Linked DNA regions of Homo sapiens: all the other regions are linked to region 1. Evidence: fine-mapped expression QTL. A gene starts in region 1. Each other region holds a variant in brackets. All regions are shown on one strand. Distances are between the middles of the regions. Region 1 holds the start of ZNF736 (zinc finger protein 736). Region 2 overlaps LOC105375318 (a long non-coding RNA gene). Region 3 overlaps LOC105375315 (a long non-coding RNA gene). Region 4 overlaps ZNF680 (zinc finger protein 680). Region 5 has its middle 68 kb from the start of LINC02848. Region 6 has its middle 48 kb from the start of ZNF736.

Evidence for each region.
Region 2: its variant is fine-mapped to the expression of ZNF736 in esophagus muscle (GTEx, PIP 0.99).
Region 3: its variant is fine-mapped to the expression of ZNF736 in CD4 T cells (BLUEPRINT, PIP 0.95).
Region 4: its variant is fine-mapped to the expression of ZNF736 in lung (TOPMed, PIP above 0.99).
Region 5: its variant is fine-mapped to the expression of ZNF736 in subcutaneous fat (GTEx, PIP 0.97).
Region 6: its variant is fine-mapped to the expression of ZNF736 in whole blood (INTERVAL, PIP 0.98).

What each region holds. Positions count from the first base shown.
Region 1 is chr7:64,311,057-64,316,456 of GRCh38, reverse strand. ZNF736 (zinc finger protein 736) reads right to left here and starts at 2,496. Exons shown (of 4, transcript NM_001170905.3): 1 at 2,304-2,496. The coding sequence starts at 2,306. RefSeq lists an enhancer at 2,264-2,443.
Region 2 is chr7:63,930,739-63,936,138 of GRCh38, reverse strand. The region is part of intron 1 of LOC105375318 (a long non-coding RNA gene); the gene reads right to left. It also overlaps the pseudogene SLC25A1P3 and the pseudogene VN1R34P. Among named protein-coding and RNA genes, the nearest start is that of LINC02848, 34 kb to the right of the region's middle. The variant G/A (reference allele first, on the strand shown) is at 2,485.
Region 3 is chr7:63,735,992-63,741,391 of GRCh38, reverse strand. It overlaps LOC105375315 (a long non-coding RNA gene), which reads right to left. Exons shown (of 4, transcript XR_927571.2): 4 at 1,766-1,846. Among named protein-coding and RNA genes, the nearest start is that of MIR4283-2, 120 kb to the right of the region's middle. The variant A/G (reference allele first, on the strand shown) is at 2,450.
Region 4 is chr7:64,537,275-64,542,674 of GRCh38, reverse strand. The region is part of intron 3 of ZNF680 (zinc finger protein 680); the gene reads left to right. Among named protein-coding and RNA genes, the nearest start is that of ZNF680, 23 kb to the left of the region's middle. The variant T/A (reference allele first, on the strand shown) is at 2,549.
Region 5 is chr7:63,829,097-63,834,496 of GRCh38, reverse strand. No RefSeq gene overlaps it. Among named protein-coding and RNA genes, the nearest start is that of LINC02848, 68 kb to the left of the region's middle. The variant C/A (reference allele first, on the strand shown) is at 2,470.
Region 6 is chr7:64,359,187-64,364,586 of GRCh38, reverse strand. No RefSeq gene overlaps it. Among named protein-coding and RNA genes, the nearest start is that of ZNF736, 48 kb to the right of the region's middle. The variant C/G (reference allele first, on the strand shown) is at 2,388.

The DNA.
Region 1 (5,400 bases):
TTTCCTGTACTTTGGGACAGTTATTCTCCTTCACAAGCCTGAGAGAAACCAGAGGGCAAGATGCATTTGTGCCTTTTCCCCTCAATATCAGCACCTGATTGGTTGACCACCAATGTGTCTGCAAGAAATGAAAACTAGGATTGAGGGGAAAAAAATCTTAATGTTAAAGCAGTTAGCTTTTTAGAGGAAGGGTGAATCAGGAAACTGCTCTCAGCACGAGGGCATCCAGCTGCTCCCCTGAGAGGCTCCACCCAATGCCTCAGGCTCTTCTCTGAAAGGAGATGACCCAGGGGCTAATGTTTGCTAGACACTCCAAGAGATATGGTCCTTGTGGGTATCTTGGATCATCCCCAGAAAGCTGTAATACTTGGACCAGGAAAACACAGGAGAGTGACTGAGGACACATCACCCTGCAAAGGATCCAAAGACATTCTGGGAAGGCGCGCGTGCCTAGAGAAGATGAGAGGAGATGCGCAGTGTCAGGTGACTACTCTTTGCTTTTCTGTCCTGTGAAATATGCACAAACAGACTAATATATTAAAAAGAGCCACCCACGGCTCTGTTAAACAAAAATAAACAAAATGCCACATCCGTTTTAAAATTAAATAAAGAACTGATAGTTCATAATGTGATTTGGAGAGGGATAGTTGGCATTTGGGAATGTGGGAAAGAAATTGGAAATTTAGAATTTTATACAGTCCCTAGAACAGTTAGGCTGGGAGAACAGTTTTAGATTTGAGACCCTGCTTGCCAAACATTTGAAAAATGCAGAGAAAACCAACGACCCTGTGGAGCATTAAAATAATTAAATAGCTAGCAATTAGGCTGAAGTGGCCATGGTGCCCTGGGATTCTGCCTAAGGAAACCTAACTACGTCGAAGGAATTTCTGGTAAATTATTAACTTTGAGAAACAACAACAACAACAACAAAACAACTTAGGCTTAACCAACCACAAGCTGCCAATAAAAAGCTCTAATTACATAACCAGGACATTTCCACCGGAGGGCTGCAAATGCAATACGTAACTGTAACCAATCAAATATTGAATCTGGTTTGCTTCCTCATACCTCTTAAAAAAAAAAAACAACCTTTTGTTCCAAGACCCTCCTTTGAGCCCCCAAACAACAAATCATAGCTGGGTGTTCTCTGATTGATAAATTACTGTTTGTGCAAGTAAACTATTTGTATTAATCGCTTCTGGCATTACTATAAATACCTCAGACTGGGTAATTTATAAGAGGATTAATTGGCTCATGGTTCCACAGGCTGCATAGAAAGCATAACACCAGCGTCTGCTTCTGGGGAGGCCCCACCCAGAAAGCTTAAAATCATGGATGAAGGTGAAGCAAGAGCTTGAAAAAGAGGCAAGGTGGGGTGCTGTACACTTCTAAATGATGAACTTCAGGGAACTCACTCACTATTGAGAGGACAATACCAAGAGGAATGGTGCTAAACTATTCGTGAGAAATCCGGGCCCACAATCCTTCCACCAGGCCCCACCTCCAACATGGGGGATTACATTTAAATAGGAGATTTGGGCTGGAAAACACATCCAAATTATATCCTAAAGTTGCCTCAATTTAGGCTAGGGTGGTGGGTCATGCACGTAATCCCGGCACTTTAGGAGGCCCGAGGCGGGCGGATCACCTGAGACCTGAGCTCGGGGAGTTCGAGACCAGCCTGAGCAACATGGCAAAAGCCTGTCTCTACAAAAACAAACAAAACAAAATAGGCGTGGTGGCGCACCCCTCTAGTCCTAGCTACTTGGGGGGCTGGGGTGAGAGGATCATCTGAGCCCAGTAGGTGGAGGCTGCAGTGAACCGAAATGCACTTTAGCCTGGGCAACAGAGTGAGACACTGTCTCAAAAATAAATAAATTTAAAAAAGGGCCATGATTTTATTTTTAAAAGGAGAAAGGAGGGACTAGGGACCCCACGGCCCACTGCTTCTTCCACGGAGGAACTCCAGACCCTAAATGAGAATTCCCGTCTTATGACACTCCCAACACCCCCACACAATCTGGAGGAGGGAGACTCGAGGTTGCGGCACAGAGCTGCCCAGGAAGGGATCTGAGCTGGGGAGAAATTCGAGTTTAGGGACAAAACAAGACGTAGCGTTTTGGCTGCTGGCTCAGCCCCTAATCTGCGATGGAGGGAAATGAGGATTGAGCTGTGCCCGCGGGGACTCGGGGATGCAGACTCCAGAGCAGACCGCGAGAAGGCCCAGATACCACCGCAGCCGGTTCCGGCCGGATTCAAACAGCCTCTTCCCCATTCTCGGGACACCCACTCCACGCACTCACCATTTCCCAGCCTCCAGATGTTCCGCCGTCCTCCCTATGGATCTCCCAGTACCTGCAGGTCACAGGATAACAGAAGCTATAGTAGAGTCACCGAGGAACTCCAGGAACGGAGGAGATGGAACAGTGGAGACGCGAACTAGGATCAGAGCCCGGAAGCTAGGAGACAAAGGCCCCGCCATATTGAAGAGGCCGCCTCTTCCTCTGTAGCTGCGCACTTGATTGGACAGTTTCACGCTGGCGCCACTGATTGGCTAGGGCTCCAGGCCCCACCCGTTTCAATCCTAAGTGACAGAAGATGTAATCAGACACTGGGCTGAATGAGGCAAGGGTGACAGGTTTTTGCCTGCAGCGTTTTCAGGCGAGTCCTCCCTGTGCTGGGGGCCTGGCCCTGCCTGAGAGACATTTGTATTTAACCTTGCATATAAGATTATATCACTTTCTGATTATATTTTCGTGTGTGTGTATATATTACATTCTGAATTATAGTTATGTGTATGCTGCAGGCCCTGTCTCAGCATCCTGTCTTTCCCTTTAGCTGCAGGAGATCAAAGTCCTCCAGGAGATGCAGCTGCTTCAGCTGGCTGTAGACAATTATCACCTTCAGTCTGTGAAGCAATTTTGGGTCTGCTTCCAATTAATGGAGTGTCTCAGTGAGACTGAGAGGTGAGGGCCTAGCAGATTGGTTAGAGGTGCCACTCGCCCAGGCCTCCCAAAACACCCTGTCTCTTTCCCACCAAAGCTGAGCCTGCCTGAGGACCTAAACAAGCATGGAGAACCAAGATGGGACCCTAGTCAGGGATAGTGCTGGGCTGTGGGGTAAAGTCAGCTAGGTCAGGGCCTCCAGGTGTGGGGAGGAGCCGGCCTCTTCTGTAGAGCCCTGGGCAAGTCACTGCCCTCTTTGGGCCTCTGTTTTCTTATCTAAAAAATGTAGGGATGATGAGCCTCACAGGGTAATGAGGAGCTTCAAAGGAGAAAAATTTGAGAGTGCTTGTGCCTGGCTCTTCCTGAGAGAGATGATGATGAGAACAATGGTGACGGCTACATATAACTGAGTCCTCACGAGGCCCAGTGAGGTAGGTGTGGTTCCCATCACACTTTCAAGTTGAGAAACAGTCTCAGGGAGGCCTGGCTGCATGCCCAAGGTTCCACACACAGTGAGTGTTGCAGCAGGGAGTGAATCTAGAATCAGAGTTTACTGGAGGTGGCAGGAGCACTGGACCAGCTTGACTCACACCAGTTATCCAGGGTACCAGGTCAATGTAACTGGGCATAACTGGGTGAAGGGAGCATAATATCACTGACCTTGTCCTTGACCCTGGCAGAGGAAGACACCCAAGTTGGCCACCCTAGAGAAGAAACCACAGAAAGCCCAGATGAGGCTAAAGCAGCAAAAAGGCAGGTACCTGTGATGGGGAAGAGCTCCAGGGATTCAGAGGGAAGAGCTCCTCCCTCCCAGCTGGAGGCCTCCACATCAAAAGAGCAAGGGGCCTTTCTCCCTCAGCCCTTCCCTCCTGTGGCAACAGTCCCTGAAATGCCTCTATAAGAGAAATCAGAGTAAAGGCCTGGAAGAGCTGGGCTGAGTGGATTTGGGAAACGGTGGAGCTAGGGACCACATAACATTGTGACTTGTTAAAATCTCACCACAGAGTTAATAAGGGAGTGCTTCATGTTTTTGGAGGCCAGCTAGGAAGAGGGGAGAGAGTTGGAGAGAGGCAGCTGCGTGTCTTTGGCTTTTTCAAGTAAAAGATGTGGATAGGAGAGTCCAGGAGATGGGGGCTTATGAGATTTCAGGGACAGGCCTTGAATGGACACCCAAAAGTGGATACTCATCCCCATCACCACCTGATAGCACAGGGTGTTGCTGACTTTCACCTCCCCACTCTCTCCCAATGTTGCCCCAGCTGCTCACCTTCCTTTTCTTTCTGGGTGTTACATTTCCCTAGAAGTCAGCCAATGGTCATCAGAAAGGCCCCTTGGACCCTGACTAGGTCCCCTCCCCACACTCTTCATACTGCATTACTGCCAGGGCCACCAGGGGCAGGGGATGTGCACAAAGCAGGACTTGGGTCTGCAGCAGGTTCTGGGGTTCAAAGGGGACAATGGGAGCTGAGGCTCAGGGACCTCCCACCCCAACTCTCTTTGATGACAGACATAAAAACTGAGGGCTCCCATTTAAAAAAGTGCTCAGCCAGGCCAGGCACGGTGGCTCACACCTGTAATCCCAGTACTTTGGGAGGCTGAGGATGGTGGATCACCAGGTCAGGAGTTCAAGACCAGCCTGGCCAAGATGGCAAAACCCCGTCTCTACTAAAAATACAAGAATTAGCTGGGCGTGGTTGTGGGCACCTGTAATCCCAGCTACTAAGGAGGCTGAGGCAGAGAATTGCTTGAACCTGGGAGGCGGAGTTTGCAGTGAGCCAAGATCATGCCACTGCACTCCAGCCTGGGTGACAGAGGAGGCTCCATCTCAAAAAAAACCAAAAAACAAAAAACAAAAGTGCTCAGCCACATACGAGCTGCCTGCCCTTGGAGAGGCCTAAGTTTACTATCCTTCCATTGGCACCATCTGAGGGAGAGTCTGAGTCCAGCTCAGGCAAAACCTCACTGGGCTTTGCAAGCAGACAGCTCTGCAGCTTCATCACTCAGGGAACAGGGACTGGTGGCTGGTGTGGAATCTTCAACATTCATAGGGAAGAGGGGCCTGATACCTCAGCTCACAGAGGCAGCCGTGACGCTCTCATGAGAGGAAGTTTGCCAAGTGCTGAGATCTAAGGGTGTAGTCCTGATTCTCTTCTCCCAAGCCTCAGGATTCTGGTTCCAGCCCTGCCCATCCCAGGCTCACTCCCATCCATATAATCCTTTCTGGCAGGGTTTCCCATCACCAGATAACTGGAAAATGTGTCCAGGATGGAGGCAACACCCTGTGCTGTCGGGTGGTGATGGGGATGACTACTCACTTTTGGGTGTCCCTTCGAGGCCTGTCCCCTGAAATCTCATAATCCCCTGTCTCCTGGACCCTCCTATCCGCATCTTCCACTTGTCCCCCCCTTTAGCTGCAGGAGATCAAAGTTCTCCAGGAGATGCAGCTGCTTCAGCT
Region 2 (5,400 bases), 380 kb after region 1:
AGCTTTTTTTGAACCCACCTTCTCTGTGCTGTTATTGGCAAATAAATTAAATTTCTTTATGTTATATAAATTGCACTGAAGATGCAATTACAAACAATATTACAAAGTTGCTTTTGACAATCAGTAATATGAGAAAAAATATTTCTTATATTGCCTTAAATATTTGTTACATTTACTAGTCCTCTTTGTCTTTTTGGGGCATTGAAATTATCTGGGATTACTTGCATTCAGCCTGAAAACTTATTTTTATTCTTTCTCAAATGATCTGTCTGCTATCAAGAAATTGCCTCAGTTTTTATTTATCTGAAATGTTTTTATTTTTATTTATTTTTAATTGATAGTTTTTCTGAGGATAAAATTTTTAGTGGACAGTTTTTTGTCTTTGAGCATTGAAATATATATATTCTTAGAAGCTGAAAAGCTTTTACGAAGAAAAAAATTCGAGACCTGAGAATGTTCAGCGATTTGAGAAATTCAGAAAGGAAGGAAATGCTTTCTGAGGAGTGAGCCACAAGTACTATATGAGTATAGATAATGTGCACCCTACATAGGTGTGATTGTGGATGTGTGGATGTTTGAGATATGTATTTTATGATATTTATTTGTTATAAAATAAAGCTCAGGCTACATTTTAAAGAATTTATATAAGATAGTTGGGGTTAATCGAGATAAATGGGTAAAATTAAAATGATAATGTTGGTAATAATTTTGACCATGCAATAAATAGTGATGATAGGATATCTATTGCTTTTTTCAGATATATAAAGTATGATTCCTCTTCATGATTAAGATGACCTTGTTCCACTTATGATACTATTAAAAATTGCCCTTTTTTTCCAAGCCGGTATTAGACTCACAGCCAACACCTTCCTCCTTTTCTTCTGTATCTGCACACTCCCTCTGGACTGCAGGTCTAAGCCCACTGACCTCATCACCTGTCACCTGGCCCTTGTCCACTTAGTGATGCTCCTCACTGTGAGCTTCTTGGCATCTCCAGACCTGTTTGAGTCACAGTATTTTCAGAATGACTTCAAGCGTAAGGTATTCTACATGCATAGAGGGATGAGGGCTCTCCATCTGTACCACCTGCTTCCGGAGTATGTTCCAGGCTGTCACCATTAGCTCCAGCACCTCCTGGTCGGCAAGAATTAAACAGAAATTCACACGTTGCATCTTTCACTTCTTTGGGTTCTCAATTTGTTTCTCAGTAATAACCTGCCCTCCTCCACTGTGGCCTCTTCTAATGTGACCAATAGCAACGTGCTAAGTATCAGTAAATACTGTTCACTTTCTTACATAAGGGACAACATCAGGAGCCTGTTTTTCATGCTGCCACTACTTACAGATGTCTTCTTTGTAGCAATCATGTTTCTCTCAAGGGCATACATGGTAATTATTTTGTCCAGACATCAGAGACAACCCCAGTACCTTCCCAGCACCAACCTCTCTGCAAAAGCCTCCCCAGAGAAAAGGGCCACACAGACCATTCTGTTGCTGGTGAGTTGCTCTGTGGTCATGTACTGGGTGGACCTTATCATCTCATCATCCTCAACCCTGTTATGGGCTTATGACTCAGTCATCGTGGGTGTCCAGATGCTTGTGGGCAATTTCTGTTAGCCCTTTTATGCTAATTAGTTCTGATAAAAGAATAATCAAAATTTTGCATAATGTGTGATATAAATATCATAGATGATTAATAAATTATGAAAACAATTATCTGAAAAACAGATTTTGACATCAAATTTTTCAAGAAGCAGGCGATTTGATATATTATTTTATTACACTTTTATTTCATCTTAATACTTTTGAAAACTATGCTGCCAAGAACTTGGTGGTTTCTTTAGTTCAAAGTCCAACATCATAGTTCCCTTTGTCCACAAGTTTCTTACATTTAATTTTGATTCCCTAAATTTTATATAAGACAACTTTTCTATCTTCTTAAAGTGTACACTTAAGATGCTCCTGTTGGTAGATGAAATTTCTCTTTGTGTGTGTGTGTGTGTGTGTGTGTGTGTGTGTGTGTGTGTGTGTGTTTACTTTCGAAGGTTATTTAGTTTACCCTTATTTATTTAAAAATATGCTAGTTGTGTATTCAATTATAGGTTGAACAATAATTTTTCAGCACTCTTAGTATCTCCTTCTCAGTTTTCTGGCTCTGCCATGGGCTGTGGAGATTTTATTCTCACCTGTGTAGATTCTCTCTCTCTCTCTCATGGATTTTAATTTTCTTCATTCTCTTTGGTGTTATGCAGTTTGACTTATCGTGTTGGATATCTTTCTTTATTGCTCTCTCACTTTTTTTTTTTTTTCGGAGATGGAGTCTTTCTCTGTCACCCAGGCTGGAGTGTAACGGTGCAATCTTGGCTCACCGCAACCTCAGTCTCCCAGGTTCAAGCGATTCTCCTGCCTCAGCCTCCAGAGTAGCTGGGATCACAGGTGTTGGCCACCATGCCTGGCTAATTTTTCTGTATTTTTAGTAGAGAC[G/A]AGGTTTCACCATGTTGCCCGGGCTGGTCTCAAACTCCTAACTTCAAATGTTGCGCCCACCTTGGCCTCCCAAAGTGCTGAGATTACAGGCATGAGCCACCGCACCCGGCCTCTTTATTGCTCTCTTTCAGGCACAGTGTCTCTTTTAGGCACATGTCTGGTTTTTAATTTCAGAAATTTGTAAATAATTATTTATTAGTATGACATTATTTGTATGGATTCAAGTGAAATAATTGTGCTTTACTCTTTCTATTCTTCACATATGTATAATTGCATACATATTGCTATTATTTTGTTTCTCTTCCTTTTATTTGGTTATATTCGTTCTGCTCAAAATTCCAATTCATTAACCCAGTTTACTAATTCTCTCATCATCAACTTAGTCTAATTTTATAATTAACTCACATATTGTATATTAAATTTCTTTATGTTTAAATTATTCCATTTCTATTTGCTCTTTTCCAAATTTGTTTGTTCAGTTTATAGTTTCCTGCTCTTTCAAAAATTATTTTGATATCATCTTTTCCCCATTTGTTTTTACTTAAACATTTAAAATAATTAAATTTAATATTTTATATTAATATTTATAAATATAAATATATTTATAATACTTTTTACATTTAAAATATTATAAATATATTTCCAGTATGCAAAGTTTATGTGATATCAAATTTCTTCCAAACCGGCCAGGCACAGTGGCTCACGCCTGTATTCCCAGCACTTTGGGAGGCCGAGGTGGGAGGATCACTTGAGGCCAGGAGTTCCAGACCAGCCTGGGCAACATAGTGAAACCCGTCTCTATTAAAAATACAAAAATTAGGCGGGCTTGGTGGGGCGTGCCTGTAATCCCAGCTACTCGGGAGGCTGGGGAAGGAGAATCACTTGAACCCGGGAGGTGGAGGGTGCAGTGAGCCAAGATCGTGCCACTGCACTCCAGCCTGGGCAACAGAGCAAGACTCTGTCTCAAAAAAAAAAAAACAACAAAAAAACTTCTAACCCTTTTTCCTCGTACCTTATCTTCTTCTGTGCTTCATACTTTATTTTTTATTTTTTGCAATAGGATCCGGTTTACTCTGCCTTGGCAGGGTGATCCTGAGAGTGGTGGGTGTCACCCTCTCCTGGGCGTAGGGAGGGCCAGCGGGCCAGTTAAGCCAATAGTGGGAGAAGCGCTGGTGGGGGGCGGGATTTGGGGGTCAGGGGTGTAATCCCGAGAATGCGGTGAAACCAGGCCGAGGCCTGGAGGCAGCTGTGGTAGCCCAGGGCAGGGTGGAAGGCAGTGGACTGGGACTGGGCCAGGGCGACAGGCTCGAGGACCCAGGCCACACGGGCACCCTGGGAGGTGGGGCGCAGTGTCACATGACGCAGAACATGAATCACAGGCCCAGGGCTCACAGTAAGCACATGGACAAGGGGGCACAGACTCACAGGCCAGATGGACATCCAGCCAACACCGGGCCAGACAAGTGGACACAGGGCCGCTGTCACATACAGACCACGGGGCGACATGGCCCTAGGGGACACACAGACTTGACGTCATAATGCACAAGGCAGGTCACAGAGCTCGAGGGACCTGGGCAGGGGCCGCTTGGCATTTCTGCACTGGAATCCTGTGAGACAAGGGTGGTGGCCGCTCTGGAGGTGCCTGGGGCGGTCCCCTCAAGGCCCTTCCGGGCTTACTCCGTCTTCCACACTGTTGAGCAGCTTTCCTACCTCATGGCAGAGGATAAACACTGTGGTCACATCCAGGCAGACCCGGCCCAGGTGGGGGACAATGCCGTTGTAGAAGGCCTTGAGCCCTTCCTTTCTCAGGATTTGCAGCCGCAGTCCCGTGTGTTCTGCATTTGTGCTTTTCAGGCCCCGCATCCGGGTCTCGATCCCGTGCAGTGGAGCGTTTCCCAAGACACTGGCTGCGCCTGCAATGGCTCCGAAGGCCCCAGCGACCAGCGGGTTCATGGGCTTGCTGGGGTTGTCCCCTCGGTACCAGCTATGCAGGGGGGTCAGGAGAAGAAGCGGATGGCCTGGTTCCAGCCCTGCTTCAGCGCGGGGGCCGTGAGGCCCCGCTGGGTCCCCTTGTTCCCGCACAATCTCCCTAACCCCGGTGGGAGACTCCTCTGCACTGGACGTCTGGGGAGGTCTGGCGGTGGATGAACTTCACCTTGATGGCGTCCATGGGAAATATGACCACCACGGCCCCGGCCACGCGGGCGCCCCAGCCGCACAGCAGCCTGCGTTGTTGTAAGGCCGTCCCTGGGCATCCCTCGTCTGGCTGCTGAGGAACAGGAACATTCAGAACCCAAAGCCGCCTTGGGGATAGAGCGGCAGAGCAGGGAGCCGAGGCCGCGGTGCTGGCCCGGGATGCCGTGGCCGCGACAGTGTACTCGCGGAATCCATGCGCCGTGTCCCGCGGGTGCGAGCGCTCGTCGGGCTGCAGGTGCGTCCTCCCGCGCTCCGTGGGCAACGGACGCCGATTTCGATGTCGCGGGCCTGGCCGCCTGCCAGGGTCGCCTTCCCCGGAGCCTCCGCTGGGCCTTCTTGGACGCGGTCGGGCCACGGCGGGCGGGAGGCGGGCGCCCAGCATGGTCTGAGGTCCCAGCATCCTGAACTCCACACTGGGACCTTAATTTGGTTTTAACACAAATAAATATTCTCACTAAAGATAAAAAGGGATGTCTTGGCTTCTAATTTTTGTTAAAAGCAATAGCATATGTTGTATAGGATAGTGCATTGGGGTAAATGGGTTTTTTATTCTTTTTATTTTTTTCATCAGCCCACTGGCATTGAAAGGGGATAGTTTTTAGGTTATCGATGAGCGATTTTCCCTCAGATAGGCCTTAGTGTAGGGGTTTGTGGTCATGTAGATGAGAGGTAGGCTGGGATTAAAAGTCGTTATGGCAGTAATAGCCTTCTGATGACGAG
Region 3 (5,400 bases), 580 kb after region 1:
AAGAAGACGCTGGCCATGTTTGTGCAGCAGCAGTATGTCACAATACGATATACCTTGGAGAGCAGTTAACTGACGAGGAAGTTGATAAAAATGATCAGAGAAGCAAAATACTGATAGCGATAGTCAAGTAAACCACGAAGAATTTCCATAACTGATGTCAGCAAGGTGGGAATATTGTACAGTGTGTGTTGAAGTTCTTATACAACAGTTTATTTGCCTTTTGTTTTTTTGTAAGGAACATATATACTAAAAGTTCTCCTTGCTGTCAAAAGAATATGTGTGAGTAAGTTATTTGAACTTTTCTGTTTTTCTACTTTTCCTGCCATCATCCCACAGCCTTTAGACATTTTTTATTTTTTTAGAAAATTGAACAAGTGCTTGTTGTCGTGGCTCATACCTCTAGGATGGGAGGCAGGGGTAGAAGGGTCACCTGAGGCCAGGAGTTTGACAACAGCCTGGCCAATAAAGTGAGACCCCATGTCTACAAAACAATTTAAAAATTAGCCAGGTGTCATCATGTATACCTACAGTCCCAGCTACTCAGGAGGCTGAGGCAGGAGGATCCTTAGCCCAGGAGTTCAAAGCTGCAGCAAGCTGTGATGGCACCACTGTACTCCAGCCTGGGTGACAGGGTGAGACCCCATCTCCTAAAAGAAAAAAGAAAGAAAGAAAATAGATTAAGTAGCAAGTTGTATGTGGCTTACTTGGAATATTTCTAAACTAGAAGTTCTCAATCTTTCGGGGTCTAGCATCCTTTTACATTTTTTAACTTTATTGAAGATCTCTTAAGACTTTTTCTTTACATAAATATATTAAAATTAGAAAATGACTAAATTTTAAAAATATTATCACATATTAATAAAACCATTACATGTTGATATAATACAAGTTTTTAAAAATATTTAATATACATTACATATTAATAATAAAATCATTACATGTTAATACTTTTTTTTTTTTTTTTTGGAGATGGAGTCTCGCTCTTTCACCCAGGCTGGAGTGAAGTGGCGCGATCTCGGCTCACTGCAACCTCCGCCCCCAGGCTCAAGTGATTCTCCTGCCTCTGCCTCTCAAGTAGCTGGGCAGGTGCCCACCACCATGCCCAGCTAATTTTTGTGTTTTTTTTAGTAGAAACGGGGTTTCACCATGTTGGCCAGGCTGGTCTCGAACTCTTGACCTCAGGTGATCCATCCCCTTGGGTCTCCCAAAGTGCCGGGATTACAGGCATGAGCCACTGCACCCACCCCAATTAATACATTTTTAAAAACACTATGATTAGTCAGGCAACAACACTGGGCAGGGGTCTCCTCATTCCCAGAGACAAACCCCACTGCACAGCTCCGGGGTTGCAAGGGCTGCAGAGACAAAAGGCTCTAACTTGAGATTTCATTATTTTATTTGTATTTCTATTTGTACTGTGAGACAGGTCGTGCTCTGTCACCTAGACTGGAGTGCAGTTGTGTACTTAGAGCTCACTGCAGCCACAATCTCCTGGGCTCAAGCCATCTTTCTGTCTCAGCTCCCCAGTAGCTGGTACTACAGTTGAGTGCCACCATATCTGGCTATTTTTTAAATTTTTTGTAGAGTGAGGGGTCTTGCTATATTGCCCAAGCTGGCCTCAAACTCCTGACCTCAAGAGATCTGCCCACCTCAGCCTCCTGAGTAGCTGGGACTACAAGTATACATCACCATGCCTACCTACATTTATTTTATTAAATTTTGAAAAACATTTTTGTAGAGAGGAGGTCTTGCTATGTTGCCCACACTGGTCTTGAACTCCTGTCCTTAAAAGATACTCCCATCTCTGCTTCCCAAACAGCTGGGACTACAGGCATGAGCCACTGCACTGAAAATGAAGAGATTTCTTTAATCTAGCATCCCATACTTGGTAGGATTGAGAAAGGCAGTAGTGTTTTTTTAAAATTACTTAATAATTCAGTGAGAATCAAACTCAACCTTGACCCCTGCCTTCTCTCACACCCCACATCCAGTCTGTCAGGAAATCCTGTTGACTGTCTTCACCACGTACTGGACTCCCACCCAGCAACTCCCTGGCCTCCTCCCCTACTTCTCTCCTCTGACCATCTCTCACCACCACGACCCTGGTCAAGACCACTAATATCTCCTGCCTGGATGTTGCCACAGCTTGGCCCCCATGCTTCTACCCAAATCTTCCCACAGCCTTTCTAAAATGAGCAGCCAGAGAATGCTTTCAAATCAGGAGACAGATCATGTCGCCTCTCTGCTCAGAACCCTCCCACAGTTCCCATCTCAGTCAGAATAAAAGCCAAAGCCCAAGCCCCAGCAATAACCTCCCAGGGCTTATGTGATATGTACTGATCCCTTCCCCTAATTCCTTCTATCCTTCTGCTCCACTGGCCTCCTTCTAGAGCCTCAGACACACCTCAGACACTTTATCCTGTTTTTCTGCCTATAATCCTCTTCCCTC[A/G]GCACCTTGGCCAACTCCTTCCCCTCCTTCAAGTCTTTGCTCAATTTTCACTTAGGAGGACACCCCTGACCATTCTATTTAACATTGCCATCTGTCCCCATGCCCACCATGCTCATGTTTTTTCTTTTTCTGTTTCTTCTCTCTTTCGGTCTCTCTTTCACAAGATCTCACTCTGTCACCAAGGCTGGAGTGCAGCGGTGCAATCACAGCTCACTGTAACCTCAAATTCACAGGCTCAAGCAGTCCTCCCACTTCAGCCTCCCTAGTAGCTGGGACTACAGGTATATGCTATCATCCCTGGCTCATTTTTTTTTATTATTTATTTTATTTTACTTATTTTTTATATATATTTTATTTTATTATTATACTTTAAGTTTTAGGGTACATGTGCACAATGTGCAGGTTAGTTACATATGCATACATGTGCCATGCTGGTGTGCTACACCCATTAACTCGTCATTTAGCATTAGGTATATCTCCTAATGCTATCCCTCCACCCTCCCCCCACCCCACAACAGTCCCCAGAGTGTGATGTTCCCCTTCCTGTGTTCATGTGTTCTCATTGTTCAATTCCCACCTATGAGTGAGAATATGCAGTGTTTGGTTTTTTGTCCTTGCAATAGTTTACTGAGAATAATGATTTCCAATTTCATCCACGTCCCTACAAAGGACATGAACTCATCATTTTTTATGGCTGCATAGTATTCCATGGTGTATATGTGCCACATTTTCTTAATCCAATCTATCATTGTTGGACATTTGGGTTGGTTCCAAGTCTTTGCTATTGTGAATAGTGCCGCAATAAACATACGTGTGCATGTGTCTTTATAGCAGCATGATTTATAGTCCTTTGGGTATATACCCAGTAATGGGACAGCTGGGTCAAATGGTATTTCTAGTTCTAGATCCCTGAGGAATCGCCACACTGACTTCCACAATGGTTGAACTAGTTTACAGTCCCACCAACAGTGTAAAAGCGTTCCTATTTCTCCACATCCTCTCCAGCACCTGTTGTTTCCTGACTTTTTAATGATTGCCATTCTAACTGGTATGAGATGGTATCTCATTGTGGTTTTGATTTGCATTTCTCTGATGGCCAGTGATGGTGAGCATTTTTTCATGTGTTTTTTTGGCTGCATAAATGTCTTCTTTTGAGAAGTGTCTGTTCATGTCCTTTGCCCACTTTTTGATGGGGTTATTTTTTTCTTGTAAATTTGAGTTCATTGTAGATTCTGGATATTAGCCCTTTGTCAGATGAGTAGGTTACGAAAATTTTCTCCCATTTTCTAGGTTGCCTGTTCACTCTGATGGTAGTTTCTTTTGCTGTGCAGAAGCTCTTTAGTTTAATTAGATCCCATTTGTCAATTTTGGCTTTTGTTGCCATTGCTTTTGGTGTTTTAGACATGAAGTCCTTGCCCATGCCTATGTCCTGAATGGTAATGCCTAGGTTTTCTTCTAGGGTTTTTATGGTTTTAGGTCTAATGTTTAAGTCTTTAATCCATCTTGAATTAATTTGTGTATAAGGTGTAAGGAAGGGATCCAGTTTCAGCTTTCTACATATGGCTAGCCAGTTTTCCCAGCACCATTTATTAAATAGGGAATCCTTTCGCCATTGCTTGTTTTTCTCAGGTTTGTCAAAGATCAGATAGTTGTAGATATGTGGTGTTATTTCTGAGGGCTGTGTTCTGTTCCACTGATCTATCTCTCTGTTTTGGTATCAGTACCATGCTATTTTGGTTACTGTAGCCTTGTAGTATAGTTTGAAGTCAGGTAGTGTGATGCCTCCAGCTTTGTTCTTTTGGCTTAGGATTGACTTGGCAATGCGGGCTCTTTTTTGGTTCCATATGAACTTTAAAGTAGTTTTTTCCAATTCTGTGAAGAAAGTCACTGGTAGCTTGATGGGGATGGCATTGAATCTATAAATTACCTTGGGCAGTATGGCCATTTTCACGATATTGATTCTTTCTACCCATGAACATGGAACGTTCTTCCATTTCTTTGTATCCTCTTTTATTTCCTTGAGCAGTGGTTTGTAGTTCTCCTTGAAAGGTCCTTCACATTCCTTGTAAGTTGGATTCCTAGGTATTTTATTCTCTTTGAAGCAATTGTGAAAGGGAGTTCACTCATGATTTGGCTCTGTTTCTCTGTTATTGGTGTATAAGAATGCTTGTGATTTTTGTACATTGATTTTTTTTCCTGAGACTTTGCTGAAGTTGCTTATCAGCTTAAGGAGATTTTGGGCTGAGACAATGGGGTTTTCTAGATATACAATCATGTCGTCTGTAAACAGGGACAATTTGACTTCCTCTTTTCCTACTTGAATACCCTTTATTTCCTTCTCCTGCCTAATTGCCCTGGCCAGAACTTCCAACACTATGTTGAATAGGAGTGGTGAGAGAGGGCATCCCTGTCTTGTGCCAGTTTTCAAAGGGAATGCTTCCAGTTTTTGCCCATTCAGTATGGTATTGGCTGTGGGTTTGTCATAGATAGCTCTTACTATTTTGAGATACGTCCCATCAATACCTAATTTATTGAGAGTTTTTAGCATAAAGCGTTGTTGAATTTTGTCAAAGGCCTTTTCTGCATCTATTGAGATAATCATGTGGTTTTTGTCTTTGGTTCTGTTTATATGCTGGATTACATTTATTGATTTGTGTATAATGAACCAGCCTTGCATCCCAGGGATGAAGCCCACTTGATCATGGTGGATAAGCTTTTTGATATGTTGCTGGATTCAGTCTGCCAGTATTTTCTTGAGGATTTTTGCATCAATGTTCATCAAGGATATTGGTCTAAAATTCTCTTTTTTGGTTGTGTCTCTGCCCAGCTTTGGTATCAGGATGATGCTGGCCTCAGAAAATGAGTTAGGGAGGATTCCCTCTTTCTATTGATTGGAATAGTTTCAGAAGGAATGGTACCAGTTCCTCCTTGTACCTCTGGTAGAATTCGGC
Region 4 (5,400 bases), 230 kb before region 1:
TTTTATTGTAAAGATTTTTTTACCTCCTTGTTTAAATTTGTTCTCAGAAATTATTTTAATGCTACTGTAAATAAGATTGTTTTCTTAATAATCAGTTTGCTTTAAGTGTATGGAACCATAACTTAAACTTGTATGTTAATTTTATATTTTGCTAATTTACTGAATGTATTTATTAATTTAAACAGGTTTTAGTGTACTGTTTATAATTTTTTATATATAAGAGCATATGATCGATAAGCAGCAAGTTTTTACTCATTTGTCTTCAATTTCAGTGAGTTTAAAAACTTTTTTTGACTAATTTTTCTGCCACATACTTGCAGTTCTATGTTAAAATAAAGTATTTACAGTGGGTACAATATAGTTTTGCATTGGTGTCTGAATTTAAAGGAGCAAACACCTCTTTAAGTTTTTATAAACTGGTTTAGAAGGTAAAGATTTTTTTTGTTGGGTTCTCAGGGTGATGGGATGTCCTCTGGGTTTGTAGTGGAGAGGGGCGTAGCTTGGTCACAAGGCTGCTGGGTCTGCACTAGGGCTCACCTTTAGTTGGCTTAACAGGGGCTTGGGTAATTGTAATTTTCATTATATTTTGGAACAGACTAAATATTTTTCTGGATGTTGCTCTGTAGGGCAGACAGTAGGGCAGGTTTTTGTAATTGGGTCTATATATGGTGGGCCTTATATCAGAATGTGGATGAGTATGGCTTTCACTGAGTATCAAAGAGAATTTTTTCAGGTCACTGTGTGGGTTCCTTTATAGGCAGAACTGGCCGTGAACTGTGGCTCAGGGAGCTGGAACTGAGTCATCGAACTGCTTCAGAAACCACAGTAAAGGACAAGGTCTGCAGGCCTGCCTGCGTGGCTATAAATGGCTGTCTTCCTCCAGGCCTCTGGAAGGGCACGGTCTCTCCCAGACTGTGGCTGGGAGGAGTTTGGGATGATTAGAGAGTAAGTTCAGAATTCTCAGTGGGACCAAATTTGGTGGGCCATTTCCTGGTCTGCAGCCTAGAACAGGGGTCCTGTATTTTTCCACCTGAATGAGGGCCTGCCTTCTGAAAAGAACACTCCTTAATCTTAGACTGTAGCAGTTTCACAACACCCTCTCTGGATCTCAAAGCTCTCTTAAAGGCACTTATTTTTGAGATGGGTTTTGGCTTCATAACCCAGGTTGGTCTTGAAATCCTGGCCTGAAGCAGTTCCCCAACCTGAATGTACCATGTAGCTGTCATTACAGGTGTGAGCCATGGCTCACATAAATGCATTTTTGACAGGGATGGCTGATAAATTTTCTTGCTGTGGGATGATAAGCAAATAAGGAACCTTTTATTTTTCCATCTTACTGATGTCACTCTCCCTATACATTTTTACTTTCTATTTTCTATTTCAAATTTTTCTGTACTTTAGGTTCAGACATTTAGGACAATATGCTAGAATTTACATGATATGGTTGATGTTACTTATAAATTTAAGTTTGCTTCAGGCAAACAGGAATTACAGGATTTTCACCCACTTAAGCATATATCTAAATAACAACATAACTAATTTCTAAATATTTGTTTTATATATAAGAAGTGCTAACCATATTCTGCAAAATATATAATTTTTAAATTTAGCAATGCAAGACTATTGTTTTGCTTCTAAAGTTGGATTACAGTAGTTTTATTTTGTGTAAGAATAGCATATATTTAAAACATAAATACTAATTTCTTGTAAATTTTTGTTTATTATAAATTTATTGTTAGAATCTTTTATTTATAATTATACTGTTTTTTTCCTGAAATTTTATTGCAACACAGCGCATGCCAATGATTTGAAATACCTGCTTTCCATGAGTACACATAGTCAAATATTGTAATTATCTAGACAAATTTTTTAATGGCACATAAATATTGCAAAGCAGATTTTGTGAGTAAACTTCTTTAGTTATTGTTTTGCAGTTCCATATTAGTGTTTTATTTAGTGTACTTTTTAAACATCAGTTTATTGTGATTTTTTGTTTTACTTATATATTTAGACATTTTGCAATTCTGTTTGTAAACTTTAAGTCAACATGGGGTTTAATTAAAAGATAAATCAGCCGGGCTCAGTGGCTCATGCCTGTAATCCCAGCACTTTGGGAGCCCGAGGCAGGTGGATCAGAAGGTCAGGAGTTCGAGACCAGCCTGGCCAATATGGTGAAGCCCCATCTCTACTAAAAATACAAAAATTAGCCTGGTGTGGTAGCGGGTGCCTGTAGTCCCAGCTACTTGGGAGGCTGAGGCAGGGGAATCTCTTGAACCTGGGAGGCAGAGGTTACAGTGAGCTGAGATTGCACTACTGTACTCCAGCCTGGGCGACAGAGCGAGCCTCCATCTCAAAAAAAAAAAAAAAAAAAGGATAAATCAGCCATATGTCTATCACAATCAGTTTGTATATGTGTGTGCTTTTATCTACAAATATGACCTCCATTTTGGTTATGGCTTATTTTGTAGGTATTCTTTCTTAGCTGATTTTCAATGGTTGTCCGATCATATCTAAATGAGTAGTCATGGAAATCGCCTTCTTTTCACCA[T/A]GTGTTTAATGATGAATATATATTTCTTTTGCATGAGAGAAACACGTTTGTGATTTGAAGATAATTTTTGAAAAGATTTATAAATCTTTATTTTTTCAGTTTTTCTTTTAAAAAATTAATTGTGAAAATATAACATAAAATTTACCATCTTAAATTCATTGAAGTGTACATTTCAGGGCCAGGCATGGTGGTGGCTTACATCTGTAATCCAGGGATTTTGAGAGGCCAAGACAGGAGTATCACTTGAGCCCAAAATTTGGAGACCAGCTTGGGCAACATATAAAGACCCAGTCTACAAAAAAAACTATTTTTAAAGACAGGCATGGTGGTGTGCACTTGTGGTTTCAGCTACTTGGGAGATTGATGGGGGAGGATTTACTTCAGCCTGGTTAAGGCTATAGTAAGCCATAATTGTGCCACTGCACTCCAGCTTGGGTGACAGAGTGAGATCCTGTCTGAATAAAAGTTGTACATTTCGAGCATGTTAAGTGTATTCACACTGTTAGGCAAAATACTTCTAAAAGTTTTACATCTTGTAAAACTAAAACTCAGTACACATTAAGTAACAACTGCCCATTTTACCCTCTCTTCAGCCCTTGACAGACACGCTTCCACTTTCTGTTTTTATGAGTGTGACTACTTAAGATATCTCATAAGTGGAATCATACAGTACCCATCATTTTGTTACTGGCTCATTTTAGGTGACATAATTCTCAACATTTATAATAAAATGGGACAAGATTTTCTTTTCTTTTTTTTTTTTTTTTTTTTTTTTGAGACGAAGTTTTGCTCTTGTTGCCCAGGCTGGAGCGCAGTGGTGCCATCTTGGCTCACCTCTACCTCCCAGGTTCAAACAATTCTCCTCCCTCAGCTTCCCAAGATTTTTTTTTAAGGCTGAATAATATTCCATTGTATACATATGTTACTTTTTTTATGTATTTATAAATCAACATCTGGATTGCTTCAGCATTTTGGCTTTTTTTTTTTTTTTTTTTTGAGATGGAGTCTTGCTCTGCCTCCCAGGCTAGAGTGCAATGGCACAATCTTGGCTCACTGCAGTCTCCGCCTCCCAGGTTCAAGTGATTCTCCTGCCTCAGCCTCCTGAGTAGCTGGGATTACAGGCACCCACCACCACACCTGGCTAAATTTTGTATATTTAGTAGAGACAAGGTTTCACCATGTTGGCAAAGCTGGTCTCAAACTGCTGACCTCAGGTGATCCACCCGCCTCCGCCTTCCAAAGTGCTGGGATTACAGGTGTGAGCCACTGTGCCTGGCCGCGTTTTGGCTTTTGTGATGCTGGTACAAGAAACATAAATGTTCAAATATGTCTTCCAGGTCCTGCGTTGCATAGTTTGGATGTAGATCCATAAGTGGGATTGCTGTATTTAATAATTCCATTTTTAATTATTTGAGGAACATTTATAACATTTGTAAATAATGGTTGCATCCTTGTTTTGCACCAACAATTAACGTGTTTTTGTTGCAAATTTTCATTGCATCATCAACTGATTTGATGTTTTCTAGAAAACTTATAGTGGCTATTATAATGGGTGTAAGAGGATTCTGTTTTTCATTGTGATTTTCATGCATTTGTCTACAAATTAGTATTTTGTGTATCCTTTCAAATGCTTTTTTGCATTTGTATCAATTTGATGAAAATTTAGTTCAATTATTTGTCCACTTCTAAGTTGTTATTCAACTTTATAATTCAGTTTTAATAGTTGTTTATATATTCTGAATATTAACTCCTATCACATGTGATTTGCAAATATTTTCACCCATTTCCTAGGAGGCATCATTACTCTTTTGAATGTTTTCTTTGATATGCAGAAATTTTGAAGTACTGTGTAGTTCAGTTATTCTGTTCTTCTCTTTGTTGCTCATGCATTTAATGTTGTATCTAAGAAAATGGTGCCAATACCAATGTCATGTTTTTTTCCTATATTTTTTCTAAGAGATTGTTATTTTTTAAATTTCTAAATATTTTATTTCAAATATTCTTTGTATATAGTTCAAGGAAAGGATTCAGCTTTATCAGTGTAGATAACCTGATTTCAACGTTATTTTTTTGAAAAGATTATCTTTTCTCTATCATGTGTTAATGGTGACTTAGTGAAAGATCATTTGATCATACACAAAAGCGTTCTTTTCTGGGCTCTCTATTCTGTTTTTGTTTGTTTTTTTGTTTTTTTTTGGAGATGGAGTCTTGCTGTGTCACCCAGTCTGGAGTGCAGTGGTGCTATCTCAGCTCACTGCAAGCTCTGCCTCCCGGGTTCACGTCATTCTCCTGCCTCAGCCTCCCAAATAGCTGGGACTACAGGCGCCCGCCACCACGCCCGGCTAATTGTTTTTTGTATTTTTAGTAGAGACAGGGTTTCACTGTGTTAGCCAGGATGGTCTCGATCTCCTGACCTTGTGATCTGCCCGCCTTGGCCTCCCAAAATGCTGGGATTACAGGCGTGAGCCAGCGCACCTGGCCGTCTATTCTGTTTTTTATCTCTTTATATGTCATTGTGTCAGTACCACATTGTTTTTGCTGTTGTAGCTTTTAATATGTTTTTCAATCAGGAAGTATAATGCTTTTTTTTCATGGTTGTTTAGCTAGTTATGATCATAATCAAATTAAAAAATTTTAAACATTTCTGTAAAAAAAACTGTGCTATTGGGATTTTTATAGAGATCATATTGAATTTTTTTACCACTTTAGGTTATATTGACATCTTAACAAAATTAAATTTTTTGACCCTTGAGCAAAACTATGTCAAAGAGTATGTTTTATTTTATTTTAAATTAAATTAAATTTAAAGACAGGGTCTCACCTTGTTGCCCAGGCTACTTTCAAACTCCTAG
Region 5 (5,400 bases), 480 kb after region 1:
CTTATTGCTGCAAACAAAAAACTTCAGAGGCTTAAAGCAAAGACCACCACTTGTTACTTTTTAATTATGTGGGTTATCCAGGCAGTTCTGTGGGTCTGGCTTTTGGGTGACTGCAGCCACCTCGTTGGTCATTGGGCCTGAAGTCACCTGGAAGCCCCATTAGGATAACCTCTCCTATCCATGGGGCCTCTCCCTCATGGTCCCTCTCCCAGGATAGCTGGACTTCAACATGGCAGCTCAGAGCACCCCCACAATTGCAAAAATGGTAGATGCCTGTGCTCAGGTATCACAGAGCATGACTTCCTTCTACTGTTTAAAGCAAGTCAGAGGCCAGCATCAATTCACTATGGGAGGAGACTCCACAAGGGTGTGACTATGGTTCACCGGGCCCATTGCTAGAGGCCAGCTGCCCCACACTCCTTCTGGACGTTTTGGGTAAATCACTTCATCTTTTTGAGCTTGGGCAATTGCAATAGTCTCCTATTTGCTCTCCCTATTCTACTTTTGCCCCTCTTCAGTCCATTCTCTTCTGCAGCCAGAAAGATCCCATAAAACACAGGTCAGGATCAGGTGTGGTGTCTCACACCTGTAATCCTAGCACTTTGGAAGGCTAAGACAGGAGGATTGCTTGAGGCCAGAAATTCGAGACCAGTCTGGACAACATAGTGAGACCCCATCTCTACGAATCTAAAAATGAAAATAAAAGTATCTGGGTGTCATGGTGCACACCTGTATTCCCAGCTACTTGGGAGGCTGAAGTGGGATGATCACTAGAGGCCAGAAGTTGGAGGCTGCAATGAGCTATAATTGCACCACTGCACTCCATCCTGGGTGACAGAGCAAGACCCCAACTCTAAAAAAAAAAACTAAAAATAAAAAAAAAAACAAAAAATAAAAACCTCTGATCAAATTGGCTCTCAGGTCAAAACCCACTGCTGCTTTCCACTGAGAATAAAGCTGAAGTTAGTTCCTGCAACTTCCCACATGGTCCTCCCACTCTTCCTTCTACCCCACGTCATCCTCCAATCTCATCTTCTACTCCTTTCCCATATTTCACTCTATGCAGCCACACATTCTTGTTCCTCATTAAGGACTCCAGGCTCTCTCCTGCCTCCGTCTTTTCATTTGCTGTTCCCTCTGCTTGGAATGCTGTTCCCTGCATATTCCTGACTCACTCCCTCATCTCCTTCCAGTCTTTACCCAAATGTCACTTCAGTGAGGACTTCCCTGACCACCATCTTTTAATAACTGTCTCCCACTTAGCTGTCATTCCATGTCCCCATTCCTTGCTCCACTTTTCCCCAGAAAGCACTTATTGCCACCTAATATGCTGAGTAATTTACTGACCCTTTTTTTTTTCCTTCTGAGATGGAGTCTCACTCTGTCACACAGGCTGGAGTGCAATGGCATGATCTCAGCTCACTGCAACCTCCGCCACCTGGGTTCAAGCAAGTCTCCTGCCTCAGCCTCCTGAGTAGCTGAGATTACAGGTGTACACCATCACGCCTGGCTAATATTTGTATTATTAGTAGAGACAGGGTTTCACCATGTTGGTCAGGCTGGTCTCAAACTCCTGACCTTGTAATCCGCCTGCCTCAGCCTCCCAGAGTGCTGGGATTACAGGCGTGAGCCACTGCACGTGGCCTTACTGACTTGTTTAGCATAGTTTCTTCCATGCTCACATGACTGTAAGCTCTTTGACATGATGGTTTTGTATGAACAACTTTATTGAGATATAATTTACATACCATAATATTTACCCTCTCACAGTACACAATTCCACAGCTTTGAGTATCATAACAGAGTCATGTTATCATCACCACTATCTAATTTGATGGTTTGATTGATTGACTGGACTTTGGAGATCCTTTATTGCTCCCACACAGGGAAATCGAAACCTAGAGAAATCGAGTGATTGCCCAAGGTCACCTGGCTGACTAATGACAAAAAAACTGAGCTGGAATCCAGGACTTTAGTTCTCAGTCCAGAGCTCTGCCAACCACAGCATTTCAGATTTCTACTTCGATGATGCCCTGGTTTTTTATTTAGTCCTATAAGTTAAAGACATACTTGGTTAGCCAATTTTTTTCTTTTTTTTTTTTGAGACGAAGTTTCACTCTTGTTCCCCAGGCTGGAGTGCAATGGTGTGATCTTGGCTCACCACAACCTCCGCCTCCCAGGTTCAAGTGATTCTCCTGCCTCAGCCTCCCGAATAGCTGGGATTACAGGCATGTGCCATCATGCCCAGCTAATTTTTTTTTTTTTTGAGACGGGGTCTTGCTCTGTCGCCCAGGCTGGAGTGCAGTAGTGTGATCTCGGCTCACTGCAAGCTCCGCCTCCTGGGTTCATGCCATTCTCCTGCCTCAGCCTCCCGAGTTGCTGGGACTACAGGCGCCCGCCACCATGCCCGGCTAATTTTTTGTATTTTTAGTAGAGGCGGGGTTTCACTGTGTTAGCCAGGATGGTCTC[C/A]ATCTCCCGACCTCGTTATTCGCCCGCCTTGGCCTCCCAAAGTGCTGGGATTACAGGCGTGAGCCACCGCGCCCGGCCGCTAATTTTGTATTTTTAGTAGAGACGGGGTTTCTCCATGTTGGTCAGGCTGGTCTCGAACCACCGACCTCAGGTGATCTGCCCACCTCGGCCTCCCAAAGTGCTGGGAAAGACTGAGCCACCGTGCCAAGCTGCCAAAGATTTTTTATAACCCCCATAAAGCATTCTCCCTTCTCTAGGAAACCACTTTTTTTTCCTCTAACAGTTTTGTGACCCAACTTAATTTTAGAAAAACAAAAATAAAAACACTGTGCTTTGCTGTAGGAACCTATTAAAAAAATGACATTGCCTTGAAAATGGACAGTGGGTAAAGCCTGACATAAATCCTGTAAAGGGAAAAAAGGATGAAGAAGCTGAGGTCCCCAAATCACCCAGCTTCATGACTGATGGTGCTAACATTTGTTGACTGACATGGAAGATTCTAGTAGTTGTTTGTCTGTAGACTCAGAAGCTTCTTTGAGCTGGAAGGAACCTTGGTAATTGTCTACGAGGAAACAGAGCCCCAGAAAAAGCAAGCCTTGTGACCAGAGTCATGGGGCAGAGCTAGGGCAGAAACACGTGCCTTCCGATCCTTAGCCTGATGATGTTCTAGGACAGAATGTTTTCAAGGATCCAAGGAAAAGGCTTTTCATTTAAATTGAGTGAGTGCAAATTGAGAAGTTATTAGGTTGGTGCAAAAGTAATTGCGGTTTTTGCCATTGCTTTTAATGCACCAACCTAATACGCTGAAATTACTTTTGCACCAACCTAATATGTTGAAAGTCAGAGTATATTTGCAGTGATAAACACTGTTGAACCCTTATTATGATCCAGGAACTTCTCTATGCCTTGAAATGGATTGAGCATCTTTCTCTGGGCTGTTGGTCAGCTTTCACCAGGTTATGTTGCAGCAACAACCCTGAAATCTCATTGGCTTACAGCAACAGAGTTTTCCTTCTTGTGCATTATATGTTGTTTGTGATGGCTTGGGATCTGCCCATATGGTTTCTTCAATGCAGGATCCAGGGCCATCATGGAACCTGGCAGTATTTGAAGGGCTGTCAAACTTTTCTTTTTTTACTTTTTTTTTTTTTTGAGATGGAGTTTCTCTCTTGTTGCCCAGGCTGGAGTGCAATGGCACGATCCCAGCTCACTGCAACCTCTGCCTTCCAGGTTCAAGAGATTCTCCTGCCTCAGCCTCCTGAGTTGCTGGGATTACAGGCACCTGCCACGACACCCAGCTAATTTTTGTATTTTTAGTAGAGACCGAGTTTCACTACGTTGGCCAGGCTGGTTTTGAACCTCTGTCTCCTGCATTCAAGCAATTCTCCTGCCTCAGCCTCCGGAGTAGCTGGGATTACAGGCATCATAACCATGCCCGGCTAATTTTTTTTTGTATTTTTATGGTTTTATTTTTATTATTATTATTTTTTTGAGACAGAGTTTTGCTCTTGTAGCCCAGGCTGGAGTGCAATGGTGCAATCTTGGCTCACTGCAACCTCCACCTCCCGGGTTCAAGCAATTCTCCTGCCTCAGCCTCCCAAGTAGCTGGAATTACAGGCATGTGCCACCATGCCCAGCTAATTTTGTATTTTGAGTAGAGGCGGAGTTTCTCCATGTTGGTCAGGATGGTCTTGAACTCCCGACCTCAGGGGATCTGCCCGCCTCAGTCTCCCAAAGTGCTGGGATTCGTGGCAAGAGCAACTGCACCTGGGCTCTTTTGTATTTTTAATAGAGATAGGGTTTCACCATGTTGGCCAGACTAGCTGAGTATCTTCTCATGTGCTTATTAGCCATTTGTATGTCTTCTTCGGAGAAATCTCTATTCAAGTCCTCTACCTATGTTTTAAATGGATTGTCTTTTATTGTGAAGTTATAAGAATTCTTTATACATACTGGATACAAGTCCCTTACCAGATATATAATTTGCAATTATATTTTTCTATTATGTGGCCACCTTTTCATTTTTTTTTCTTTCTCTGAGACAAGGTCTTGCTCTGTCACCCAGACCAGAGTGCAATGGTGCAATCAGGGCTCACTGTAGCCTTGACCTCCATGTGGTTGGATAACATACTGTGCATTTTAATCTTTTAAAAATTATGGAGACTTCTTTATGTGTTAATGTATGGCCTCTCCTGAGAATGTGTACTTGAGAAGAATGTGTGTTCTGGTATTGTTGGGTAGAGAGTTTTAGGTGGTTTGCAAAGCTCTTCCAGTTCCTATTTCTTTGCTTCTTTGATCTTCTGCCTGGTTGTTCTATTCATTATTGAAAGTGGGTAATCACATCTCCCACTTTTATTGGTAAATCTATTTTTGTCCTATATTTTCTCAGTTTTTTGCCTCAGGTATTTCAGAACTCTGTTATTAGGTGCCTAAGTGTTTATAATTGCCATATCTTCTTGATGAATTGATCCTTTTATCATCGTAAAATGTCCTTATTTGCCCTAGTAACTACTTTTGTCTTAAAGTCTTTTTTTTTTTTTTTTTTTTTTGAGATGGAGTCTTGCTCTGTTACCTGGGCTGGAGTGCAGTGGCACGATCTCAGCTCACTGCAACATCTGACTCCCAGGTTCAAGCGATTCTCCTGCCTCAGCCTCCTGAGTAGCTGGGATTACAGGTGCATGCCACCACACCTGGCTAATTTTTTTTTGTATTTTTAGTAGAGACGGGGTTTCACCATGTTGGCCAGGCTGGTCTTGAACTCCTGATGACCTCAGGTGACCCGCCTGCCTCGGGCTCCCAACATGCTGGGATTACAAGCGCGAGCCACTGACCCCAGCCTTAAAGTCTGTTTTGTCTGCTATTAGTGTAGCCATTCCAGACCTCTTTGGCTAGTGTTCATATAGTGTATCTTTTTCATCCTTTGATTTGCTT
Region 6 (5,400 bases), 48 kb before region 1:
ATGGACTGGACTAACAGAAAACTGAAGTAATCGTTCCGACTTTTGCTTGTAACATTATTGATCCTTGTATTGTTTACCAGCATCAAAGAAACTTATGTTGAGCTATTTACAGCCTTTAATATTTGACTAAGGTGTACTCCTGTGAACAAAATTTGGAGCATGTTTGTCTCTCTCTGCCTGGCTTCTCCAGAATTTGAAAAATAGTGTGAGTATTCTTAACCTATGGCAATATGGCTGTTTGCATTGGGTATGCTTCCCTTTATGGAGTCAAGCTCAACTTGCAGAGCCAATAAAAGCCCCTTGGAAAAACTGGCCTCATAACTCATCTACACAGTCCTTGTGCAGGGTTCCGTTCCTGATCTATGGTAAGTAAAGAATGACACTTTCTGATAGGCCCAGGAGCCCCAAGTTTATCTTGGGACCACAAGAGGAGAGGATCACCCAACTCATAAGTATTTGATAGTACGAACCCATGGCTGGGCTTGACTTCAGAAAGTCCTATGTAAAATTTCTTGTGGAACAGAGTTCCATCGAAGCCAGTGTAAAAGACCTATGTAAAAATAATTATTCTTGCTGCACTTTATGCAAATAATCAGGCCAAGTATAAGACTAATGTTTATTTCACAAATAACTCAGTCCTGTCATGATTCGTTTTTAACAGAAAAGAGGACTGGATAAAGATTATGTTTCAAAACTTATTATACAATTGTCATTAAATTCTAAACTCATTAGTTTTGAGTTTTTGCCTACATTTTAGACCAATCCTGCTTATTCCGGTGAACCACCTGGCGATCTTCAACTGCAGCTCAGAAGAAACAAAAAGGGATGGGTAATGTAAAAATCTGGATTAATATTCTACTTCTGGGCAATTATTCTGCAAATCCTGCAGAGGAATGGGAATAAATAGGGTGCCCATCGCAATCTCAGCAAGCATAACTATAGCCACTAGTTATCTGGGTGTGTCAAAAGACATTCTTTTCTCTCCCTTGTGGAAAGAGGACTTAATTCCACAGCTTCATCTTAGCATTCAGCTCATGGTAAGGAGTCTATGCAATCCCCTGAGACATATTTTTGTCCCAACCTCAATTCCAAGCTTCAAGTTGAAGCCTTAGGAAAGAATACTGGATCTGAGAAATCTACAGGCAGATAATGGAGGTTAAAAGGCACAGTGCAGGTGAGCATGACTAATTCCAGCCGATTAAACCAAGCCTCCCATTTCATAGATAAATATCATGCTAGGATCTGTGGAATAAGTGAGGTCTAGTGAACTCCAGAACCACTGACAGAAGGGGAAATAGGATAAGAGCAAATATTTCCACCCCCCTAGGCCTCCCTGTTAACCAGGGTGGAAGCTGCTTGGACACCAATGGGTGGCACCCTGTCACAATCACTGGGACTTGGGGATACAAGGATGGAAGGGGAAAAGAGAACATTCTTTCTTCTGTCAACATACCTGGGTATTTGCTAGGATGAAAAAGGAACCAGGGACACCTGCTCCTCTCTTTCTAGATGAGTAACCATTCATTCATCTTCAGTCTATATCCTTTTCGAATGCATCCTGAACCCTTGGGACTCCTTTGAAAACATGCTTTTTTCCTTTTATCCCCTCTGTCTTCTCTTTACAGATAGGTAATCATGTCTTCATACTATGGGACGGTCCCCTCAGATGCATCCTCCAAGCTTGGAAGAATTAATTTTCCAAACCTTAGACTGGGTGGCTTAGGATTGGACTCAAGACAAAAGAACCCAGAAGCCTGACATGCTGGCAAAAGGGTAAAAGGTGTTTTTTTTTTTCTTTCTTTCTTTCCCCCGTTGGGCTTTTGGTCTCCCTTTCCCTATGCAAACTGGTAAAAGACCTTGGGATTTCTTAGCTTTCCTTGCCACCTTCCCCTTGTTTCGTTTTAATACATGTTTTTAAATAACCCAGTTTGATTCTTCCCACCTTCAGGCTACCAAACTTCAAAGAGTCACACAACCAGAGCCTTGGACAATGGCCCCTTTCACAGGGAACTCTTAGATAGGCCTCTTAGGGAGATCTGACTGCCATTTTTCCAAAACAGTGTCCCCTGTCATCAGGAAGCAGTTAAAAATGGTTTTTTGTCCTTATCTTTATTTTGATTCTAACAGCAGTTAGATGTGCTTCTTTAGAGGGGGAAATAACAGAGTTAAACAGCCAAGGGTCCTGGGTGAAACCCCATCTTCAAGCCTAAAACAGCCTGAAGACTAAAAAATCAGACTGCTGGTCCCAGATGAAGCCTGCCTTTTTCTAACTGATTATGAATAATTTTCTAACTGAATAATGTCCACCTGCACACTGGGGGGAAGGGAGTGGAGCCATGGAAAGTTTACCCCTTGTGCAGGGAGGAGGAGCCTGGCCTCTTCAGTTT[C/G]TGTGTGATGGTCTGGTGTTCACCAATCTAGGAGGTGGGGGCCTTTAAACAGGACTCCGACTCACTTTTTTTTTTTTCTGGTTTTTAACCCAATCAACTCTACTCCTCACCCTTCAGAGTGTCTCTGAGCCTAATCTTTCCTAGTCATGTGACAAGAACCCAATTTTGCTGAAGGAAAGTTCTGCAACATGAAGATTTGGAACCCTCATTTAAGATAAGCTTAGTATACACATGTGGGTCTCTTTCTGGCTTCTATGTTTCAACATTTTTCTGTCTTTATGCCAACACCACAGTATTTTGATTACTGTAAATTTGCAATATATTTTTAAACAAAAAAAGAATTATGCCTCTGAGTTTATCATTTATTTCCAGGTTGTTTGGCTACTTGTGGTTTTTTTTGAGTGTTTATAGAAATTATAGGGCAATATTTTGGTGGCTTAGTCCTGTGATCTCAGAACTTTGGGAAGCCAAGGCAGGTGGATTGCTTGAGCCCAGGAGTTTGAGAGCAGCTTGGGCAATATGGTGAAACTCTGTCTCTACAAAAAATACAAAAACTTGCTGAGCCTGGTGGCATACACCTGCAGTCCCAGTTACTTGTAAGGCTGAGGTGAGAAAATCAATTGAGCTTGAGAGGTCAAGGCTACACTGAGCCATGATTATGACACTGCACTGCAGCCTGGGTGACACAGCTAAATATTGACTCAAACATTTTAGAATATTTTAGTACTTCTGCAAAAAGTACCATTGGTTTTTTTGAAAGAGATCTCATTGATTTGTAGATCATTTCGAATACCATTAACATCTAAAGAAACTTGCATGTTCTAACTCTTGAAAAATAGTATGCTAAAGAATTTGTCGAGTTTTCATATATATGCAGGTATGCTAGTTTTCTTTTGGCTTTTAACTTCCAGTTATATTTCATTGTAGTCAGAAATAATATTTTTATGATTACCATTTGTTTACACTAAAACTTGCATTCCAGCTTAGAAGTTTGCCTATCTTAGAATATGTGCCATATGCAATTAGAAATATTACGTATTATGCTATTGTCAAGTGAAATGTTTTGTAGATTATTCCCAGGTCTTATTTTTCTTTTTAACCTTTTATTTCTCTCTGCATTTGCCTTTATCTTTATTTTCTTTTTTTACTTTCTTTCTATTAATTTTATTTCTTTTTCTTTTTTCTCATTACATTCTCTTAATTTCAAATTTTCTAGAATTTTTGTCATGTTTTAATTTCTTGTTTATTTCCATTCATATCCCCTATTATTTTTCTCCATGTTTCTTTTTCCATTTCTCATTTCTTAAAATTTTATTTTATTGCAAATTATTGCATTTGTTTACTTCTGTTTTTATTGTAATTAGTATCTTCATCTTCATTTTATTTTCACTGATCTTAATTACGTTTGTTTTTCTTTATTTCAGTTTGTCCTGTTTTTCAATTACTTTAAATTTATTTTTAAATTTTATTTTCTTTCTCTTGATTTCATTTGTTTCACTTTATTTTTCTGTATTTTGCTTTGTAAAACAGAAGGGATGAGCTATTTTACATTGGCCTAGCCATAGTGGTCAAGACTCATTTGCTGAGGCTCTCTGGCAGCCACTCTACCCCAGGAGTCTCCAACCCAGGGTATAGTCAGGGCCTCCTAGGAAGATTGCTAAGATCCCTCGGCAGATCTTTCATTGTTACAGGCCCATCTGGCACTCAGTGTCATGGGCCATTTCTGCTGCTTTCTGAAGCCCCCTGGAAGTCTTAGTGTTGCCAGGCCAAGACCCTGACTGCCTCTTTGTGTCCCAATGGATCCCCCACACATAATCCAGGGCACTGACTTCTTTCCCAGGAGAGGGCCACACCCACTCCACTGCACCAGGGCATGTCTGGACAATATGTGTGTCTTTGTTATAAAAGAATTTTTTTGTTTTTTGAGATGGAGTCTTGCTCTGTCACCCAGGGGGGAGTGCAGTGACGTGATTTCAGCTCACTGCAACCTGCAACCTGCACCTCCCAGGTTCGAGTGATTTTCCTGCCTCAGCCTCCCAAGCAGCTGGTATTACAGGTGTGTGCCACCACACCCAGCTAACTTTTTTTTTTTTTTGTATTTTTAGTCGAGACAGGGTTTCACCATGTTGGCCAGGCTGGTTTCGAACTCCTGACCTCAGGTGATCCACCCGCCTCAGCCTCCAAAAGTGCTGGGATTACACATGTGAGCCACTGTGCCCAGTTGAGAAAAAAAAAAAATTTTAACTTGACATATAACTGAATTATGAAAATGTCAGCTTTATGGGTAGATACACATGCAAATATGTGCAAAAATGCTAATCATGTGAGAAGATGAACATTTCTACATTGTATTTAATGATTTCATAGGGTTGCTATTTTACCCTTTCCTGTCTTTATATGTTCAATGGGAAAATCCTCAGTGAAGACTCCTCAGTATGACAGACAAAATGTTGTGCAATCTAATCACTGATAGATGCAGTGACGTAACTTCTGGTTTTCATTCGGAGCTCTCACAGCTAGGATTAAAAACTCTTAGTTGCAAACTCACATGATGAGGAATTATAGTATGCTGTCCTCTTCTGCACATTTGTCTGCCATCATAATTTTTTCAACTTGCCAAGGGAAAAAGTGGGAAATTGTTTCCCTCAGACCTACTCATCTCCCTTCCATAGGTTTTCAGGTTGTGTATTGTCCAGATTGCTTAGAAGCTCATGATCACAGAGGTCATGATTGTCAAGAGAAAGCTTTGTTGCAGGATTAAGTGAAGGTGTTTACCACTCAGGGCCTACGGTTCCTCCAGAGGCAGGATGAACTTAAAAATCATTCCTGAATCCAGAAAGTAATGACAGAAGTCAGGGACTACCCACAGGAGAAAGAAAAATGCTCCCTTTTGCTTTCCAAGTGGTCACTGCTTATTCTGGCATTAATCATGCTTCTGACCATGATGTGTTTCTTACTCATCTTTCTCGGTATTCCACTGATTGTGCATCTAAGGAAAAGAGGCCTGGATGAG